Linked DNA regions of Homo sapiens: region 2 is linked to region 1. Evidence: fine-mapped expression QTL. A gene starts in region 1. The other region holds a variant in brackets. All regions are shown on one strand. Distances are from middle to middle. Region 1 holds the start of ACO1 (aconitase 1). Region 2 overlaps ACO1 (aconitase 1).

Region 1 (10,902 bases):
GAGAAAAGGAAAAAAAAAAAAAAAGAAATGAAGGCCAGTCGATCTAGGGAGACGGTCAGCTGATGGTGCCAGTCAACTGAAGTGAGAGGGCGAGGCCAAGGTCAGACAGACTCTACAGGGGAAGCAGACACAGCACAATGTGACTACATGGTAAGTGTGCCTGTTTTTCGGTTCGCCATGCCTCACACTCCTCACATTTCTCACTGGGAGACAGTAGCTGGAGTCTGCCACCAGGTAAGCTGGTGGTAAGACAGCCTAAGAAAGATGGAAGAACTGTCCTCAACATACCAGGTGTAAACATACTGTAGGGGTTGATTTTGGTAATGTCAAATGTAATATTTATTCATGCTTGAAAACCCCGATAAGCTAAAATGAAGAAAATCTAAAAAGCAAGTGTGCTGTATCACCTAGAGAAAAGCACTCAATGTTTTGGCATATCCGCTGCCTTTGTACATGCAGGGGCACACTCGTACATATATGCACATGCTTTCTCTCCTCAGAAATACAGAATCACAGGGAAATACTGCTGTGTAACATGCTTTTTTTAGTTTAAAAACTATACAACACTATTTTGTAACACCAGTGTAAAGGCTGCACAATAGCTTGCTAAGGAACACTTTGAACTAGTATTACTAACCCTGGACAAGAGTCAAACATTAATACTGTTAAATAAAATGTTTTGACTTGAGAGTCTCTCTCTTATTTTTATACTAATATTATATATACAAGTTCAGAGCTGTGATATGACAAAGCAGTTTTTTTTAATTGGGGGAGGAGGATGGTGGCAACATTCCTATCAGAGAAATAACTCTATTTTCCTTCCGAAAGTATACGTTGTTGGGATTTTAGGTTTACTATGTTGTAAAAGCAATATATGAATGCTACAGGCTATCCTCCCTTATAAGATAGGCACACATCTGTTATTATGAAAAGTAACAAAAGTTCTCTGGCTTCCTTCTACCTCATTCCACTGCCCAGAACTGGCTACTGGTCTATCTTCTAAACATTCATGATGCTACTTTAAATACATGGAATGGAATATGTAATGACACATGCACACAACTTATGTACACATAGATGTACAAATATGCATACACACAGGTATACACACACAGTGTACTCTACAATGTATCATATACATATATAACGAGGATTTTTTTTTTTTGAGACAGGGTCTTACTCTATTGCCCAGGCTGGAGTGCCGTGATGCAATCATGGCTCACTGCAGCCTGGACTTCCCAGGTGATCTTCCTGCCTCTGCCTCCCAAGTAGCTGGGACTACAGATATGTGCCATCACACCTGGCTTTAATTTTTTTCTGTATTTTTGGTAGAGATGGGGTTTTGTCATGTTGCCCAGGTTGGTCTTGAACTCCTGGGCTCAAGCGATCTGGACTCTCAAAGTGCTGGGATTACAGGCGTAAGCCACGGTGCCTGGGCCTTTCCATCCTTTTTAACATTTCCTTTGTCTCTGCCCCTGGAATCAAGACAGCTCTTAGAGACACTACTAGTTTTTGCATAATAATATGCAAAATTCACACAACGGGTTAGACTGCAGGTACATCCATTCTAGCATAACATCTGAGATGGCTCCAGGGAGGGAGTTGGGAATAAGACCCATATGTGGCTCTGTCCTCAAAACTTCAACACACTTGGCCTTCCTTTAAACAACCTACTATGGAGTCTTCCATGATTGATTCCAAATCCTCTACAGTTACTACTGCCCGCTACGTCCATCTTGGAGACTCAAGTTTCTGGTATTCACGCATAAAGTCCTGAAGAATCTCCTTTTCCATAAAACTCTCTCTTTGAAACATGGTTCTTGTTCTGATAGTCTAGGTCAGGAGTCTGCAAACTATGGCTGGCCCTTGTTTTTGTAAATCAAGTTTGACTGGAACACAGCCATGCTTGTTTGTTTGCATGTTGTCTATTGCCGCTTTCGTGCTTCAACACCAGAGCTGAGTAGCTGCAATAGAAACTGTATAACCATAACCCAAAAAGCCTAAAATATTTCACTACCTGTCCCTTTACACAAAAAGTTTGCTGATCTATATTTTAGAATATGATGAAAACAGATTTTTTTCCTTATCAAAAATTTTAGAGGACTTGAATCATACACCCTATATCTAGGATCTTTGTCTAGGCTAAAGAGTCTGTTTTCTACTAAAAAAACAAACCAAAAGCACCTTGGCTCAGACAATAGCAGTGTCAGCTGGCAAAGGTTTAACAACTTGAACTCCAAGAGGAAAAAAAAGCTCTGATGTAGCATTTGCCAATTTCCATGGTGTTATTATTCCCACCATGGCTTATTTCAATCTAAAAAATGTGTTGCCACTGAACACGGAGTTAGGAAGAGATATGCACAAATGCTAGTATAAACCAGCTCTGAAACCACTGGCTCCTTGGGACACTTACTATCAATGGCCTAACTCCTCATTTTAAAGTCAAAGACACTGAGACCCAGAGAAAGTGTCTTAACCCGAGGCTGGCCCAGTGACTGGCACCAGGTTGGAGGTAATTTCCCTGTGAATCTGGCTGCCTCACAGGAAATTACTTCCTATGTAGAAGGAAGAGTGGGGGAAAGAAGGCAAAGGAAGTTCTTTGCCAGGCACGTGGTGATACACGTTGGTTTTTATCATCATCTTCACAGTGTGGGACTGGTTTCTTCAGCACATGCCTTTGAAGCACACTTTAGGTAGGGGGTACTGCTCTTCACACAGGACCAGCTTTCATGTACACACTCTGACTATATAATAGACTATCTCAATTAACCAGCAGTTATCAAAGCTATCAGACCATAATTGCCAGAAAGACAGGGACTGCATCTTTTGTGCTCACTACTTTCCTGGCATCCCGCACATAACTGGACACATGAGAAATAGGTGGCCAATAAAAATCTACTGAAAGAATGAAGGAATGAGACCCCACCATCAAAGTGGAATTTTTTAATACAAAGAACACAGCAGGTGCTCAGAGTTTAGATCCCATTTCCTTCTCCTGTGGACTTCTCCTCCTCCTCACCTGTGGACTGTGCAACACACACAACACGCTCATGTGCATGCAACATTTCTCAAGTATCGGCTGTAGCATTTAAACTGATCCATCAGAGCACAAGAGGCTCTATGGATGAAGGAACAAAAGGGAGGATGGAGTTAGAAAATTTCTTCCTCCCAAATATATACACATAACATCTGTCTTGAACTTGTTCTGACAAGGCACGAAGCTAAGGAAAGAGTCCCGTGAAGGACCTCACCTACCACACTCCAGGATGGTGGAAACTGCTTTTTGACAGGGGCTGAGGAAGCACCACTCAGAGTGACACCCTCTGAAAGTGGAAAGTGAAAGAACGTCAAGACTGGAAATCATTATTCCAATAAACTCAAGGCTAATAACCATGCAACTGCAAACAGAAATGAACACGTGCAAGGGAAGGCAAAAGCATGCCTCCTTGTTCTTTTGGAAATAACTTCCTGACTACTTGGTAACTCTCACAGGAACCCCTACACACTTGGCATGGTCTCCCCACTGGCACTTTTGTGAGCCTACAGGTCCTGTTTGCCACATCACTGTTGTAATCCTGATGCACAGACAGGTCAGCTCTGCAAGCACAGAGACAACCAAAGGCATGTGCGAAGCCTTGCTGACTTTTCAGGAGGCTGGCAAGGTTCATCACAGCCTCACGTGGGGACCTAGTACATGGTTTCCAAAGTGAGATCAAACTTGGTTCCAGATACCAGAGGTTAATACTGTCCATGGCATGAGGTGGTGTGTGTTCCCAATCAGAGGAAGGATCACAAACAAGAAGCAGGCCCAATGAATGAAGCCTCTGAAGCATTTCCTACACCAGCATCCTCAAAGTGTGGTGCAGAGAACTCCTAGGGATCTCCAAAGTCAAAACCATTTTCCTAGTAATAAAATGTTACTTGCTTTTTTTCATTCACACATTTTCAGGAGTATACAGTGGAGGTCTCAAGAGGCTACATGATATGTGATATTGCAACAGACTGCAGAAGCAGCTATCAGAATCCAGCTGTCTTCAATTACGCTTGACATCAAAGAGATTTGCAAAAATGTAAAACAATGCCACTCTTCTCAATCATTTTCTGTTTTGGGAAATATAGTTCTTTTTCATAAAAATAGGCAATGTTAAGATATAATTAGTTCACTATTCTTTTTAAATGAATTATTATAGTACAAATTTCTCAGTCTTACTTACATATTATAAATATGGATAGATATAACACACATAAAAGCTCCTTAAGATACTAATTTTTAAGAGTGTAAAGGAGTACTGAGTACCAGAAAAGTTTGGGGACTTCTGTCCTAGAGGTTGTCCCCCAGGGAAGAGAGTTACATGTGTTGCAAGAAGGAAGATGCCATTATGATGTGCTAGCTGAATCTAGAAAAAAATGACTTGGTCATAACTGCAGCCCAAGCTCCTTTCTAGATCTCTGAATCTATCATGGTGGGCTCTGTGTTCAAGCCTCCCACGAAGGGTCTCTTCCCCCTCATCCCATTTTCCCTTTACCCCTTGGAGTGGATTCCCGGATCTGCCCGCACAACTTTAGCAAGGGTTTCCCTATCCAGCCAGCCGGGCCTGGGCGAGGACTCCCAGTGCGGGCCTCACACCCTCGGGGTTAGGACTCCCAGGACTGGCCGCACACCCTAGGCAAGGACTTTCAGGACAGCACGCACAGCCAAGGCTAAGAAGGGTCTAGGAAAGCCACTTCCAATCCCTGGTTTCTCTCCCCGGCATGACATAGACTGGGGACAGGGTGGAGACGTCAGTCGCCAGAAACACGTCCCCGATTCTCCTCTCAGCCTCCCCAAGCTCGCCTCCGTGTCCCCCGTGCCGCCACTGCCTCGGGCACCTCGGTAAAGGCCCGCACCGACTCTCGAGGGATACAGGGTGGACGGCGCTCCCGCCTGGGGACGTGGGTCGGGCCGCGTCGGTACTCACCTCCGACTGCACGGCGGGGCTCCCGCGACCGGCGAACCTGACCCAAGCAGCGGGACGCGTTCCCGTGCGCTGCGCGGTTCCAGCTGCCGCCTCCACGCTCCGCCCCCTCTCGCCCCCGGGGCCGCCGCGCGATGGGCGGAGCAGGGGCGGGAAGGGCGGAGCAGGGGCGGGACGGACGGGCAGCTAGCCGAAGAAGGGGCGGAGCCTGCGGGCGCCCCCGCGGGCCTGGAGGACTTCGCCCCGGGCTGGAGGCTAGGGTTGCGAAGGGCTCCTCCGCTGGAAGTGGGAGGGCTGATCCCTCGGCCCGGGTCCGCTTCTGCCAGCATGGGACCTGGGACGAGGGTGTCTGTTGCTCACTTTGGAGCTTAGCATGTGACTCCCCAGCCGGCGTTAGGAAGTGACCAAAGGGTGGGGAAGAAATGGAATTATTTTTAAAAAATGATTTGGCCATAACTGGAGAGGCTTCATGTACGTGTGGTCACTTGGCCCGCCTCCCTTCTCACTTTGTCCGTCCCCACCCTACCCACCCTCTCCACCCTCGCCTTAATTCTTTGCGCAAAGCCTGCCAAGTGGACATCGGAGTCACGCTGTCAGAATAGGACTTCAGCATTTCCGTGGCAAAAGTTCTATATGTAGATTTCCTTGGACATGTAACAACACTTTCTAATGCACGATGTTCACCGGTCTGAAGTCGGAGAAATGGCTGGGAGATGGCAGCAAGTGGGCTTTCACAAGATCTGCTTTTCATGTTGGTAGGAGTTGTGCCCTCTTGGGTGAATGGCGTTCAAAGAAGTGATTAGATCTTTCTAGATGAAAGGTGGTGAGGTTTTCCTGCCCAAATTATTTGGAAAGTTACTGTAGTTTTCTGAATAAGCAGCTTATAGGATGAGTAAACAATAGCCAGTACTAATAGCCCCCCTGCTACTTTATACTGCCCTCCTATTCTGCACAAAGCCCTGTGATCGACTCTTTCCACGTTATTCAGTTCAGCTCTTCCAACCACCTTACAAGTAAAGAATATTACCCGTCTTTGCAGGTGTGCAATGCGCAACAGCTGAGACTCAGTCCTTAGGTTGGTTTGACACCAAAGCCTACACCTTCCCTGTCATACTGCACTATAGGGTACAACTATCGTCTAGTTATATTTAACTTTGAAATATAAATACTTATATTTATTTTGAAAGGGGAAGTAACTGTATTTCCAATATGAGAGGAGACTGTTTTCCCACCCACTTCCTAAATCCTTTCCATTCACATTAGTAATTAAATTTTCTTTGAATGTCCACCATATGGCAGAGGTGCACCACAATCCCTGAAAAATCATGCTCCAGTCCCCTTGGGAGGTAGGGAGAGTAGGGGCAAGGTGAGAGTGAGTAGAAGGCTGGGGAAGTCCGATGAGGACACATCCAGCTAAATTGCGATTCTTAATGAGGCAGCCATTCGGAAAGCAAAGTATCTAATGTTCAATGATAACATCCGTGTAACTGAGAATCCTTCGCAGAAAACAATCAAATCAGAGCTATGAAGGGAATTGAGATTTATTAGTAAGCACGCTGGTCAAAACCGTGAAGGAAATAGTTCCACATCCCCCCAGTCTGTTGCTCTTGGACGTTGTCACCAGTGACGTGCAGATCGTGAATCCCAGGGCCTGTCCTCTGTTCCTGTCCTTACTCACTACTCTGTGGTATTTGACACTGGCGATTCGTTTTCCTAGAAATGTTAACCTCCTTTTGGCTTTTCAGCCCTCCGCTCTTAGGAGTCACCTCTTCCCTCTTTTGTCCCTCTTTTTTAAGGTCTTTCCCTACACTCTCTCCTCTTGCTTTATATGTTTCTCCATTTGCTGAGTTTTTCTTCATCTATTTTCTCAGTATGCAGACTGCCTGCCACTTCTAGCTGAAGCCTGCTATGTCTCTGTCATTGGTCTTAGTTAACTTTCTGACCTTCACACTCTTGATTTGCAGCCATATGTGGCAACCCCACCTGGATATTCCAAAGGTGTCTGTATTAGACCGTTCTCACGCTGCTGTAAAGAACCCTGAGACTGGGTAATTCATAGGGAAGGAGGTTTAATTGGCTCACAGTTCTGCATGCTGGGGAGGCTTCAGGAAGCTTACAATTATGGCAGAAGGGGAAGCAGGTATGTCTTACCTGGCAGCAGGCAAGAGAGTGTCCTCTGAATGCACAGTGGTCCTCCTGAATGCTTTGAGGGGACCTTAGAATCCCTAAATTTTTCACTGAATATATGTCTTCATACCAGAGAAAATTTGAAATAAACGTTTTGTTCCTCTTTAAGAAAAAAAGAGTTAAATTCATAACAAGGAGAGGCAGGTCTTAGCCTCATCTTGGCTCCCGGTAAATATCCAACGGCTCTCCCCTGATGCCCTCTTCCCACCACACCTGCTATACGTTTAATTTTCGTGCTCTCTTAATTACTGCCTAAGGGCCTGATCCCTGAGCTGCCTTCCCAGGGAACAAGAATCCTCTGGGCAGCTGCTTACAGTTTCTCTCAGTATAGCTAATAATAAAAATCATCCCCATGATCCAATCACCTCCTTCCCTCCACAGGTGGGGATTACAAACCATATCAGTGCCTGTCATTCATCACATCTAAAATGGGAATTTAGTGTCTTCTCTAACCATCTGTCTCTCCCCTCCTATCCATTTAGTTTCTTTTTCATCCTAATCCTGCATCCCGAATTTGTATTTCATGATCTGCTGAGAAAGCTAAATGTTTAAGGGGTATATTGCCATGGCATATTACTACGCTCTCACAGGGTCCACCTAACAAATATTTCTGTCACGATATAAAAGGTTCTGCTAATGGCCCAGCTGAGGGCATATACTCTAGGGACCTTCAGAGAGGATGCCACCCAAGCATGTAACTGCTCAGGCACCCCAGCTGTGCTCTGGTGGGGGGCAGAGGCAGAAGGACCTTCATTTGAAGTAACAGTATTGTTTTAGCAGCCTTACCTGCTAGAAGGCTCTGCTGCTATAAGAAGAACCATGAAGATTCTGCCAGAGACCTGTTGAGCTCTGAGGAATGCCTCATCATATTCCACACCGATTTCAGTTACTTGTATATGCTGGACTTCCTCAGTTTATTGAAAGGTCCTAGGAACTATACCCAACTAACTTTGTATCATGCTTTACAATTTATACTGCATTTTCACATACATGTCATTTAATAGGAAGGGAGAGGTGTAAGAGAAAAAGTCAAGCATAACGCTTCTCAAACCTTGGGGTACATTGAAAACATGCGTGCCTGTGTTGTGCTCTTAGGAGGCTGAGTTTGATGTGGGTGGTCAAAAGACCATGCTTTGAGAAACACCAATGGTAGTTCTCCGAATCTGGGTGTTTCTCAGATTTACCATAGGGCACTGATAAAAATATAGCCTCCTGTATCCTCTGCCTCCTAGAATGTCTGATTCATTAGGTCAGGGTGGGGGTCTGTGTTCAGATTCTGAATACGCTACATTTTTACCACAGGTGATTCTGCTGTAGCATGTCCCCAGATTGGCACCAAAGACCTGTTACCTAGAAATATACACTCCATGAGGGCAGGGGCCCATGTCAGTTTGTTCATCATCCCTAACATGGAGTCTGGTGCATAGTAGGTGCTCAATACAAGTTTGTTGACTGACTTACTGTCAGTGTCTTTCTATTGCTTACCCTTTGCTCTCTGTTGGCCTTTGCGCTGTTCAGAGTCCTCTAGAGTGGCACGGAGGGAAGACATCTGTTTGGCAATGAATGAAGTATAAAATGGTCCTCCTGAATGCTTTGAGGGGACTTTAGAATCCCTAAATTTTTCACTGAATATATGTCTTCATACTAGAGAAAATTTGAAATAAATGTTTTGTTCCTCTTAAAATCAAAGTTATATTCATAACAAGGAGAGGCAGGTCTTAGCCTCATCTTGGTTCCCGGTAAATAGCCAACTGCTCTCCCCTGATGCCCTCTTCTCACCACACCTGCTATACGCTTAATTTGCATGCTCTCTTAATTACTGCCTAAGGGCCTGATCCCTGAACTGCCTTCCCAGGGAACAAGAATCCTCTGGGCAGCTGCTTACAGTTAAGCACCATTCCTCTCAATATAGCTAATAATAAAAATCTTCACAACCGCCTGTTGATGCTGGTAACATTGTTATTGCCATAGTTTCACAGATGAGGAAACTGAGATTCAGAGTAGTTACACAGAATGCTTCAGTCATGAAACTTAAAGGGTGATCCTGGGGTTTTAGAGAAGGCTGGCCTCACTCCATAGCTTGTGCTTTTAAGCATTATGCAACAAAATCATCAGATACCCTGAAGCTGTAAATTATTTGTTCTTTGCAGAAGAGGGACTTAAATGTTCTAGAGAAAAGATTTGTTCTATCACCATATAGGCTGGAATTCCTTATTCACGTATTTCCAGGGCTTGTTCTCCCTGATGATAGCACAGAGATCCCTGCTGCAGCCATGTAATGTAGGGACACCTGGGTAAAGAGAGTCCTCATTCTGGGGGATGGAGGTGTTGGAAATCAGGGGCAGCTTGAGTATGAATTCCAGGATTGGTACATAATTCCTAGGTGTCTAGTACCATCTTTCACATGTGTTAATTTGCTGGATACTTTTTGAGTACTTTGTGTTATATATTTTTCAGAAGGGAGAGGGAAGTACTCTGCAGGATTGGTCCTTTAAATTATTTAGGTATACACAAAATAAAACATTTTTTTCAAGAAAATAATTTGGTAATGTTGACAAATGAGAGTAAAAATAAAAATTTGTCACTAATTTGACTCATTTCTAATTCCAGTTTATGATGAGATTACTTCCACATGTCAGTTTAAGTGCTTTTTAAATTTTCTTCTTGAGACAGGATTTTTCTCTGTTGCCCAGGCTGGAGTGCAGTGGCAGGATCACGGCTCAATGCAGCCTCGACCTCCTGGGCTCAAGCAATCCTCCTACCTCAGCCTCCTGAGTAGCTGGGACCAAAGGTGTGTGCCACCACACTCAGCTAATTTTAAAATTTTTTATAGAGGTGGGATCTCCTCATGTTGCCCAGGCTGGTCTCAAACTTCTGAGCTCAAGCAATCCTCCTGCCTCGACCTCCCAAAGTGCTGGGATTACAGGTGTGAACCACTGTGCCTGGCTCTAAGTGCTTTTTAAAATGGAAAATCCTCTTTCCCTCCTCCCTTGCCCCATCCTTGGTGGGAGGAAACAGCAAACATTTCGTCTGTTCCAAGTTCATCCTTCAAAGTACCATGCAGATTAACTTAACCAGATGATGGTGAGCTACTGCCCTCTGTTGATGAGTGTGTGGTAAACACATTGTCAAACAGAAAAAGCTGAGAGGATGGTTAGCATTAAGAGAAAAAACAATTGGGCGACAGAGTGAGAACTTGTCTCAAAGAGAGACGGAGAATAAGTATTAAGAAGACATAAATGGATTAAGAAAGCTACCTTTTGTTCCTTAATTTCACATTTACTGACTGTCCTAGAAGTTAGAGAGCAGAAACTTAATCAGTCCACAAACTGGCTCTGCTAAGAGCTTGGTGTGATGAGTCCAAAAATGACTATGATTAATTCTTACTCTGAGGGACCTGAGAACTTATTGTTTTATTATTTTCCCACAGCTTTACTGATATTATTTTAATGTTTGCCCACGATAGTACAGCATTCATCTTTCACATATCAAAATCTAATGTTAATTGTTATTTTTTATCTTTTTTTCCCCAGATAATTCCAGGTTCTTACAACCTTCTAACTTCATGTACCCTCCTTTTGATTTCTATGCCATTGTTATCTTGTATTTTATAGTCACACATTGTAACTCTTGAAGGCATTATTATTTCTGTTTATAGGGTCAATATTTGTTTAGATTCAAGCATACTTTTACCATTTTTGTTGACTGCTTCTTAGTAGTTCCTCTCCTCCCTTCTCCCATACTTGGTGGGAGGAAACGA
Region 2 (10,902 bases), 70 kb before region 1:
GCTACAGCTTACTGTTGGTGAAATATTTATAATAAAACTACTATTATTTCCATTGTTACTGTGGCCATGATCTGTGTATTTAAAAAAAGCTAAGAAGTGAAAAAAAAATACTAAATGTTCAATAATAAAGAAATAGTTTTTGGCCAGGCATAGTGGCTCATGCCTGTAATCAAAACACTTTGGGAGGCCAAGGTGGGCGATCACGAGGTCAGGAGTTCGAGACCAGCCCGGCCAACATGGTGAAACCCCGTCTCTACTAAAAATAAAAAAGTTAGCTGGGCGTAGTGGCAGGTGGCTGTAATCTTAGTTACTCGGGAGGCTGAGGCAGGAGAATCGCTTGAACCGGGAGGCAGAGGTTGCGGTGAGCTGATATCGCGCCACTGCGCTCCAGCCTGGGTGACAGAGCAAGACTCTGTCTCAAAAAAAAAAAAAAAAAAGTCATGCTAAATGCAATGACGTGTCCTGGATTAGCTCCTGGAACAGATAAAGGATACAACTAGAGAAAGAGTGGTAAAATCTGTAGTTTAGATAATAGTAATGTACTGATGTTAATTATCTTGGTTTTGACAAATGTGCTGTGGTATATGAGATGTTAACATTTGGGGAAACTGGGTAAAGGGTATGCAGAAATTTTCTGGGATATCTTTGCAATTTTTCTTTAAATCTAAAATTGTTCCAAAGTAAAGTTTATTTTAAAAAATTATGAAGTTTATGTAGTATAATGAAAAACTGCTTACAAACTAATGGTAATAAGGAAAAAAGTAACCAGAACACAGAATTGTAAAGATGCTACTTTGTAGCTGTGTGAAACAACAGCAGCAAATACATTCATTGTCATTGTCAAGAGAAAAAGTCAAAAAACCTACCTTGCTACAGAAAAACAAAGGCTAGGGGAACTATACCAAAATGTATTAATATTTTGGTGGTGAGATTCCATGACTTTTTTTCTCTTTTCCTACTACCTTATGTTTTCCAAACATTCCTTTTGGGCTATGGATCACTTTTATAATGAAAACAAAATATCTCCTTATTTGTAAAATGTGACATCTGCAGATTAGCCTTCTATTGCAGCCTTATATTTCTTTCTTAAAACTTTCAGAGAAAGGGTTAGAAAAATCTCCAAAGAGAAATATGGGGTATAACTCTTGCATGGGGGGCACAGTGGAGGGGCTGGGCTGGCTCAGATGAGGAGTTATTACTTCAGGATGTTCCGTTCGTCTTCAGAAAGCAGAAATCTCTCATCAGCTCAGCTGTTTGGGCAAAAAGCCTATTAGGAGTCATATTGCTAAGTTCCCTTACCTTTCTAAGTCTGCTTCTTTAGCTGTAAAAGGTCCTTTCAGCTCCAATTTGGGTGATTGTTCTACTAAAAATGGCCCTTTTAGACCCTATGTTTTCCTGAGGGACTAGTATGTTGGATCTGCATTTGTTTCTGAGCTGTTTACTCTAAAGTTGACTCTAGGTGGGGCCTGTGGACACATTAGTCCCTGACCTTCTTCAATTGCATCTTGACCTTGGTCGTTTTCCCTGTATCCTTTGGATTGTGCCTGCCAGGGCCACTGGTGAACTTCAGCTTCACAAATTTTCAGCAAACATCGCTTCTGTTTTTGAATAATGAGTATCTACCTTCAGAAGCTGGGTTACCTGGAACCTTCTTAATCTTCTTCTTTATGAGGTGCCCAGTGTCCTCACTTGCAACCCCACCCTGCCTGTAGAGGGGAGTCAGGTGCATGGATCCTCTGGACTTTGGGTGAATCTATTTTTTTTTTTCCTCCAATTGTAAAATAAGTGAGACCCACCTGTTCTTTGCCTCAGATTATTGTGGGGTTTTCTTTTTTTTTTTTTTAAATCACAATTATGTACTGGTTCTAACGTTCTCTTTTGTGTGTTATTCCATCCCTTCATCTGTAGGAATGCCATTACACTGTGCTTGGAGATGCTTTTAAGGAATGCTTTGTGAGTAGACCACATCCCAAGCCAAAGCAGTTTTCAAGTTTTGAAAAAAGAGCAAAGATATTCTGTGCCCGACAGAACTGCAGCCATGACTGGGGAATCCATGTGAAGTACAAGACATTTGAGATTCCAGTTATAAAAATTGAAAGTTTTGTGGTGGAGGATATTGCAACTGGAGTTCAGACACTGTACTCGAAGTGGAAGGACTTTCATTTTGAGAAGATACCATTTGATCCAGCAGAAATGTCCAAATGATATCAGGTCCTCAATCTTCAGCTACAGGGAATGAGTAACTTTGAGTGGAGAAGAAACAAACATAGTGGGTATAATCATGGATCGCTTGTACCCCTGTGAAAATATATTTTTTAAAAATATCTTTAGCAGTTTGTACTATATTATATATGCAAAGCACAAATGAGTGAATCACAGCACTGAGTATTTTGTAGGCCAACAGAGCTCATAGTACTTGGGAAAAATTAAAAAGCCTCATTTCTAGCCTTCTTTTTAGAGTCAACTGCCAACAAACACACAGTAATCACTCTGTACACACTGGGATAGATGAATGAATGGAATGTTGGGAATTTTTATCTCCCTTTGTCTCCTTAACCTACTGTAAACTGGCTTTTGCCCTTAACAATCTACTGAAATTGTTCTTTTGAAGGTTACCAGTGACTCTGGTTGCCAAATCCACTGGGCACTTCTTAACCTTCTATTTGACCTCTGCGCATTTGGCCCTGTTGAGCACTCTTCTTGAAGCTCTCCCTGGGCTTCTCTCTCTTCTAGTTCTATTCTAGTCTTTTTTTATTGAGTCCTCCTCTTTGCTGATCCCTTCCAAGGGTTCAATATATATACATGTATATACTGTACATATGTATATGTAACTAATATACATACATACAGGTATGTATATGTAATGGTTATATGTACTCATGTTCCTGGTGTAGCAACGTGTGGTATGGCTACACAGAGAACATGAGAACATAAAGCCATTTTTATGCTTACTACTAAAAGCTGTCCACTGTAGAGTTGCTGTATGTAGCAATGTGTATCCACTCTACAGTGGTCAGCTTTTAGTAGAGAGCATAAAAATGATAAAATACTTCTTGAAAACTTAGTTTACTATACATCTTGCCCTATTAATATGTTCTCTTAACGTGTGCCATTGTTCTCTTTGACCATTTTCCTATAATGATGTTGATGTTCAACACCTGGACTGAATGTCTGTTCTCAGATCCCTTGGATGTTACAGATGAGGCAGTCTGACTGTCCTTTCTACTTGAAAGATTAGAATATGTATCCAAATGGCATTCACGTGTCACTTAGCAAGGTTTGCTGATGCTTCAAAGAGCTTAGTTTGCGGTTTCCTGGACGTGGAAACAAGTATCTGAGTTCCCTGGAGATCAACGGGATGAGGTGTTACAGCTGCCTCCCTCTTCATGCAATCTGGTGAGCAGTGGTGCAGGCGGGGAGCCAGAGAAACTTGCCAGTTATATAACTTCTCTTTGGCTTTTCTTCATCTGTAAAACAAGGATAATACTGAACTGTAAGGGTTAGTGGAGAGTTTTTAATTAAAAGAATGTGTGAAAAGTACATGACACAGTAGTTGCTTGATAATAGTTACTAGTAGTAGTATTCTTACTAAGACCCAATACAAATGGATTATTTAAACCAAGTTTATGAGTTGGTTTTTTTTCATTTTCTATTTGTATTTTATTAAGAGTGTCTTTTCTTATGTGATTTTTTTTAATTGCTATTTGATATGGTTTGGCTATATGTCCCCACCCAAATCTCATCTTGAATTATAATCCCCATGTGTCAAGGGAGGGACCTGACGGGAGGTGATTGGATCACGGGGGCAGTTGTCCCCATGCTGTTCTTGGGATAGTGAGTTAGTTCTCATGAGATCTGATGGTTTTATAAGTGTTTGACAATTCCTCCTTTACACACACTCTCTCTCTCATCTGCTGCCATGTAAGACTTGCCTGCTTCCCCTTCTGCCATGATTGTAAGTTTCCTGAGGCCTCCTCAGCCATGTGGAACTGTGAATCTATTAAGCCTCTTTTCTTTATAAATGACCCAGTCTCAGGCAGTTCTTTATAGCAGTGTGAAAACAGACTAATACACTATTGTTTAAGAACTCCAATAGGATGTGTAAAACATCTACTAGAAATAGATTTAATAAGATAAAAGTTATTATTATTATTTTTTTTTCTGAGATGGAGTCTCACTCTGTTGCCCAGGTTGGAGTGTAGTGGTGTGATCTCGGCTCACTGCAACCTCTGCCTTCTAGGTTCAAGTGATTCTCCTGCCTCAGCCTCCCACATAGCTGGGTACAGGCACCCACCACCACACCCGGCTAAATTTTTTTATTTTTAGTAGAGTCGGGGTTTCACCATGTTGGCCAGGCTGGTCTTGAACTCCTGACCTCAAGTGATCCACTTGCCTCGGCCTCCCACAGTGTTGGGATTACAGGCGTGAGTCACCATGCCTGGCCAAGAAAAGTTCTTTTAAGTATGTAAATGATTCAATTTGGATGAAGGTGAATAGCCCTATTCAGCCAACTGAGGCAGGCAGACTGAAGTGAAAATAAATAAGGAGAACTTAGCATTTCCTTGTTTGACTTTTAATGGAATAATGTCATTGCCAGGCATGGACTCAAACAAAGTAGGCACTTGGTTAATATGTATTGAATGAAAGAAATGAGCAGGTAGGCTTTTAGGAAGTGGATCTTTTGACTGACTCCCAAATGCTGGTCATTGCATTTCTAGAACAAAGGCCACATTTTAGAAACAACTGGGGAGTCTTTTTCATGGACACATGCCCAGCCCCATTAGAGCATCCTGGCAGGGTGTCCAGCCGTGTATGTTTTGAAGCTCCTGTGGTTCAGACACAACCTGTTACACAACTACCACCTTGTTATCTCTGTGGTCCTGGCCTGTGCTGATGCTGTGATATTTTCACCCTGAAATGAAGAGTCATCCCAACATCAAGGTCAGTAAACCAATTCCTGTCCTTAAAATGGATTC[A/T]TTATTATTTGAATTTCAAACAACAGACCAACCATAGCTCAATGTTTCTCAAGAGTATCCTGTGGAGCACAGTGCGTGAACGCCCAGAAGAAAGCAGTCTGTGGTCAGGTGGGTTTCTGTGCCATTTGCTGCCACCTTCCCTGCAAACAGTGATTTACAGCACACATTGTTCTTGTGTCTGTTCTGCAGTGATAAAACCCATTTAACTCAGTGGTTCCCAAATGTACTGACCGTGGAACTGTTTTACTCAGGGGACACTGTTAACATCCTGTAGAAGCACAGTAGCAGGTATCCAGCCTGCATACGATAAGACAACCAGAACCAAATTTGGCAGGTACATGTCTGGAACTCTGTTTCATTATGCCGTAAAATAAAACTACGAATTTCATTCAACAAATCTGTACTGAATAAGTAGGCTTCACTCTTGGGATGTCAACTTTTAAAACTTACTTAATATCAGCTATCGTTATATAATCTTTGTTCATAATGACGCTGTCTGGTTGAACACAAACTGGCTGGGTGTTAAATTCCACTTGTGTTTATGATATTTAATAATGTCCTAAGAAGGCAGCCAGTAGAACCTTGGCTACTGTTTTTCAAAAGTGGCTCTGCATTGCTCCTACATAACCCCGTACATTACTCCACAGTCCTGTTAGAGCCCTGAAAGGGAAACTGCTAAAAATAAGGTTCTTCATTTAGGTGACTAGGAACTCCCAATATTTTTGCCCTAGGGAATACTGGGAGACAAATCTCTACGATCACAAATTACTAATGGTTTCCCCAGAACTGCTGGTGGCCATATCCCCTGGCATGTGGAAGGGCCCAGAAGAGGCCACTCTACTGCAGAGGCCAACAGAAGGTATGATTGGTGGAGGGATGGGGGGGTGGTTGGAGGGGCAAATGGAAGGGAGCTTGAGTCACTAGATCCAATCAAGCCCATAGTCATGGCCACCACTGTCCTCAAGTTCTATGAGCCAGCTTTTTTTTTTTTTTCCTTAAGCTAATTTGAGCTGTGCTTCTACCACAGCTAAGATTCATGCCTAATATATCTTTTCCCTAGATTACTCCCTATGTACCATAAAAATCTGGTGTGTAAATACACATGAAGGGCATCCCTCATCCTTATTTGCTATATTAAAAATATTAACTAACTCTTAGCTTGCTGCGGATGCCAGGAATGCAGTAATGAATTTGGAAAACTATCCAAACAAACAGGGGAATCTTCATTCGCAAAGAATATGGGAGGGAGAACAGCAGATTTTTAATTTGGATAGTAAGACGAGCAGCCCTTAAAGAACCAGGTAAAAGAAGTTGGTTTATTTAGGCTTGTTAGTGGGCAAGGTTGAGACACTGGCCAAGATACTTTTTTTTTTGGGGGGGGGGGGGGTGGTGATTGATTGATAGGGTCTCACTCTATTGCCCAGGCTGGAGTGCAGTGGAGCAATCATAGCCACGACCTCCCAGGCTCAAGTGATCCTCCCACCTCAGCCTCCTGAACAGCTGGGACCACAGGTGCACACCTGGCTGATTTATTTTATTTATTTATTTATTTATTTTTTTTTTTGTAGAGTGTTGCCCAGGCTGGTCTCAAACTTCTGGGCTCAAGCAACCCTCCAGCCTCGGCCTCCCAAAGTGTTGGGATCATAGGCATGAGACACCGTGCCTGGCGAAGATATTTTTACCGAAAAGGACAGAGGGTGTACTTGGAGGTAAGGGACCCAATTCCATTAGTCTAGCCACAATAATGTGTTTGTTTCCTCATAACCACAGTCTTGGTTGGGCTGCTGTAACTAAATATCAACTGGGTGGCTTATAAACAATAGAAATTTCTCACAGTTCTGGCTGGAAAGTCTAGGTTCAAGGCACTGGCAGATTCAGTATCTGGTGAGAACCCACTTTCTGGTTCACGGATGGTGACTTCTTGCTGTGTTCTCCCATGGCAGAAGAAATGAGGGGGTCTCTATCTTATCTTGAGTCTCTTTTAAAAGGCACTACCCTCATGATCTAATCACCTTCCAAAGGCCCCAGCTTCTATTACCATTACCTGGGGGGTTAAGGTTTCACCACCTGAATTTTGGGGAGGATACAAAAATACAGACCACAGGAGCCACTGAATGCGGGGAGCGAGACAGCTCCCCAGCTGCTCAGTAATGGAGAGCTGAGAGGGTGGAGGTCTGTTTTCTCAGCCATTCTTAGTGTTTTTATTCTAGGACTGATCTTAACTTGAGGATCACAGGTTTTTTTGTACAATGGAGTTCTGTTTGTTTGTAATTTTTTTTTTTTTTTGAGACGGAGCTTTGCTCTTGTAGCCCAGGCGGGCGTGCAATGGCACGATCTCGGCTCACTGCAGCCTCTGCATCCCGGGTTTAAGCAATTCTCCTGCCTCAGCCTCCTGTGTAGCTGGGATTACAGGCACACAATACCACACCTGGCTAATTTTTTGTATTTTTAGTAGAGACGGGGTTTCACCATGTTGGCCAGGCTGGTCTAGAACTCCTGACCTCAGGTGATCTACCCACCTCGGCCTCCCAAAGTGATGGAATTATAGGCATGAGCCACTGCGCCTGGCTGTTTGTTTGTAATTTATTTTTTAAATGAATATAAATAAGATCCCCAGGACCGCAAGTGCAGGGATGCTAAATAACCTGTCTTGATCCCTCATCTGGTGAGAAGTAGAAAGAGGATTAGATTCCAGATGTTCTGATGACCAGGCCATATCCCCTGAGTGCTAAGGTTGACATTAAAAATTCATTACAAAGATCCTGCCCTCCTGTCCTTGGACATCACAGCTCCTGCTTGTTCCTGGGCATTCAGACTCTGGGACTTATACCAGCATTCCCCATGCCCCTCCCCAGGTTCTTAGGCATTTGGACTTGAACCAAGTTGTTATACCACCAGCTTTCCTGGGTCTCCATAAGAGTGGGACCCTGATCCAATACAATTAGTGTTGCTGTAAGAAGAGACATGAGAGCCTATTTTCTCTCTCCCCCACCAGGCACATACCAAAGAAATGCCATGTGAGAACAAGCAAGAAGGTGGCCATCTGTAAACCAGGAAGAGTGTCCTCACCAGAAAATGAAGTGGCTTCAACTTTGATCTCAGAATTCCAGCCTCCATAACTGTGAGAAAATACATTTCTGTTCTTTCAGCCAGTCTATGGCATTACATTATAGCAACCCAAGCAAACTAAGGCATGCCCAGAAATGACTACAGGGGTAAAAATGAGCAGATAATTGGTTTTTAGTGTCCTGAAGTTTATCTGCTTTTCCTTATGTACTTATATCGTTGCCACTGCCACCAGGCTACTCTTCCTTCTTGTCTGCTCCCAAACAGGGAAGAGCGAGCATAATGGTTCCTAAACATTTCCGTTATACCCGTACAGTTCTGATAGAGTTGTAAAAATGGGAGAATATGAAGGTTATTCAGGCTTCCCAATGATATGGTGTGAGATTCACTCTGTACTAAATATCCCAAAACTCTAGCCACAAACACAGCAAAACTCAAAGTCAACAAGTTTTCACTGAAAATAGATTTCATTTCATTCAAATTAGAAATGTGTTCTCCCAAACCGCCTCCCAACAAAGGTCTCTGCTTGATAAATGAAAAGATAGTAAAAGAAAACTTCACATTTCTTTTTATGTGGATCTATCAAAAGGTACATAATCAAAACAACTTTAACACCCGACCTATCCATGAGGAGTCTGGATGATTCACTCTGAAGGAAAAGGGGAGAGAAGAGAGAATCACTGCTCTGATTTGAAGTGTGCAAAGTTCTTATCTATGTCACTTAACACTGGTATAATTAATACAGAAAGGAAAATGACCCTCAAGAGGAAGGTTTCATTGAGCAGAGCGTAAGAGGAACAATAAGAGGGTAGGAGACACCTCCTGAGAAGGTTTGCTTGTGTTCAGCTGAAGATTAATAGGAAACAGTGAAAAAGCAACGTCCTGTGATCAGTAACTTTAAAGACAAGCTTGGTTCTCTCTTTCTGGCACTACTGACATTCCCACCATTCTAGCTTCCAAATTCTGGAAAAAGAGAAGATGATTAACAAAAATAGAGAATGTAGAAACTTCTGGTTTTGTGCCTACAGGATTGGCACCAGACCCTCAGTGCTCACTTGCTCCATCTACAAGGCAGCACCCCTCCCAGAGGCAGCCAGGGAGGCCTCTCCACCAGGGCCTGCGCTGGCTGGTGGTGCGGCTTCCTCCCTGGGCGCAGCACCAAGTGCACGTCTCCTACTTGGCCATCTTGCGGATCATGTAGTTGAGGATGCCCCCGTTGAGGAAATAAGTGAGCTCCACATCAGTGTCAAACCTCATGACAGCCTGGAAGGTCTTGCCAGTATCCAGCTGTGGCACAAAGAAACAGAAGCATCATTGAGGGAGGTGGCGAGACAGCTCTGCTCGGAGGAAATTCTGCCCAGCCTGCCCCTCAGGTGTGGTCCACACTTCAGTAACACCAGCAGCACATGAGGACATGCAAGGCTGCTGGCCCCAGCCCAGACCCACTAAATCAGAAGATGCATTTCAGCAAGATCTCTGGGAGGCTGCTTTGCCCATTACAGTTTGAGAATCACTGCAGACTGTAAATGATGGGGGTGAGAGCCATCTAAGAACTAGAAATAGCTTCTCAGGGCAGTAGCTATTAATGACATCAGGGTGGTATTTTCTAAACCTCTGGGGGCTCCCTGTGGACAGAAGTATTCAATCAGCAGAGATTTCATTAAGGTTGTCCCTTAGGCAGCTGGCCCATCTGCTTATCTGAGACACAGACTTTTGCACTGCCTCTGTCTGGGGCACCGAATGACCCCTGGGACCTGGTGCTGGGCACTTTATCTTTACCTTGCCTAGGGATCTATCATTTTCACTCTTGGGCTAATCAAAGCCTGGTGCCTATGGGCAGGCTTAGGGAGGGGTGAGTATATCTGTTGCTCACGTTTTTATAGTGAAATGTTTTAGGTAATGTGAAATGTCACATCCCTGAGCTCTCATCACGAGAGACCGGGAACAGGGTACAGTAGGGGGTGGGAGGTAAGAATGGAACTGAGGATAACTCTGTGAATAAACAGAGAAATTAAATCCATAGGCATCATCCTATGCTATGAAGGCAGGTAGAAAAGATGCTAGTAGGCCTCCTAAGTCTAATGCAGTCCTCCTGAGTGATATTTTTTGCCTTCTAAACCTCACTAATTTCCTTCTAACAAGACTGGTTACAAACGAGGGGGCCCCTTTCGACAGGGCCTGGCATAGAGAGGCTCCAGCTTACCTTGACCTGGACTTTCATTTGTGGTTTGAGGTTTTCTGGAATAATGATAGTGTATCGTTCTTGCCCTGTGAGCCCCAGGGCATCTGCATTCTCACCAGGGAGATATTCAAGTGGGATCACACCCATCCCAACCAGGTTACTGCGGTGAATGCGCTCGTAGCTCTCGGCCAGGACGGCTTTGATTCCCTGATGAATAAAGACAGTAGTTTAGACATACTTCCAATCTTTTCTTTGGATACACAGGTTTACAAAAGACTTTGTGAGAGAGCTGGCATGATGGCCGAATAGGAACAGCTCCAGTCTGCAGCTCCCAGTGAGACTGACACAGAAGGCGAGTGATTTCTGCATTTCCAACTGAGGTACCCGGTTCATCTCATTGGGACTGGTTGGACAGTGGGTGCAGCCCATGGAGGATGCGCTCAAGTGGGGTGGGGCGTCACCTCACCTGGGAAGCACAAAGGGTCAGGAAACTTCCTCTCCTAGCCAAGGGAAGCCATGAGAGACTGTACCAGGAGGAACAGTGCACTCTGGCCCAGATACTGCGCTTTTCCCATGGCCTTCACAACCAGCAGACCAGGAGATTCCCTCCAGTGCCTGGCTTGGTGGGTCCCACCCACAAGGAGCCCAGAAAGCTAAGATCCACTGGCTTGAAATTCT

The links. PIP is the estimated chance that this variant, and not a neighbour inherited with it, causes the effect.
Region 2: its variant is fine-mapped to the expression of ACO1 in hippocampus (GTEx, PIP above 0.99). The same link has a PIP of 0.9 or more in blood mononuclear cells, caudate, hypothalamus, nucleus accumbens, prefrontal cortex and putamen.

What each region holds. Positions count from the first base shown.
Region 1 is chr9:32,378,792-32,389,693 of GRCh38, reverse strand. It overlaps ACO1 (aconitase 1), which reads right to left and starts at 5,051. Exons shown (of 21, transcript NM_002197.3): 1 at 4,959-5,051. RefSeq lists a silencer at 4,871-5,250.
Region 2 is chr9:32,448,425-32,459,326 of GRCh38, reverse strand. It overlaps ACO1 (aconitase 1), which reads right to left. Exons shown (of 21, transcript NM_002197.3): 20 at 10,246-10,431; 21 at 4,558-9,329. The coding sequence ends at 9,216. RIGI (RNA sensor RIG-I) reads left to right here. Exons shown (of 18, transcript NM_014314.4): 18 at 1,909-4,025. The coding sequence ends at 2,205. It overlaps LOC101060445 (a long non-coding RNA gene), which reads right to left and starts at 285. Exons shown (of 1, transcript NR_197444.1): 1 at 1-285. The variant A/T (reference allele first, on the strand shown) is at 4,977.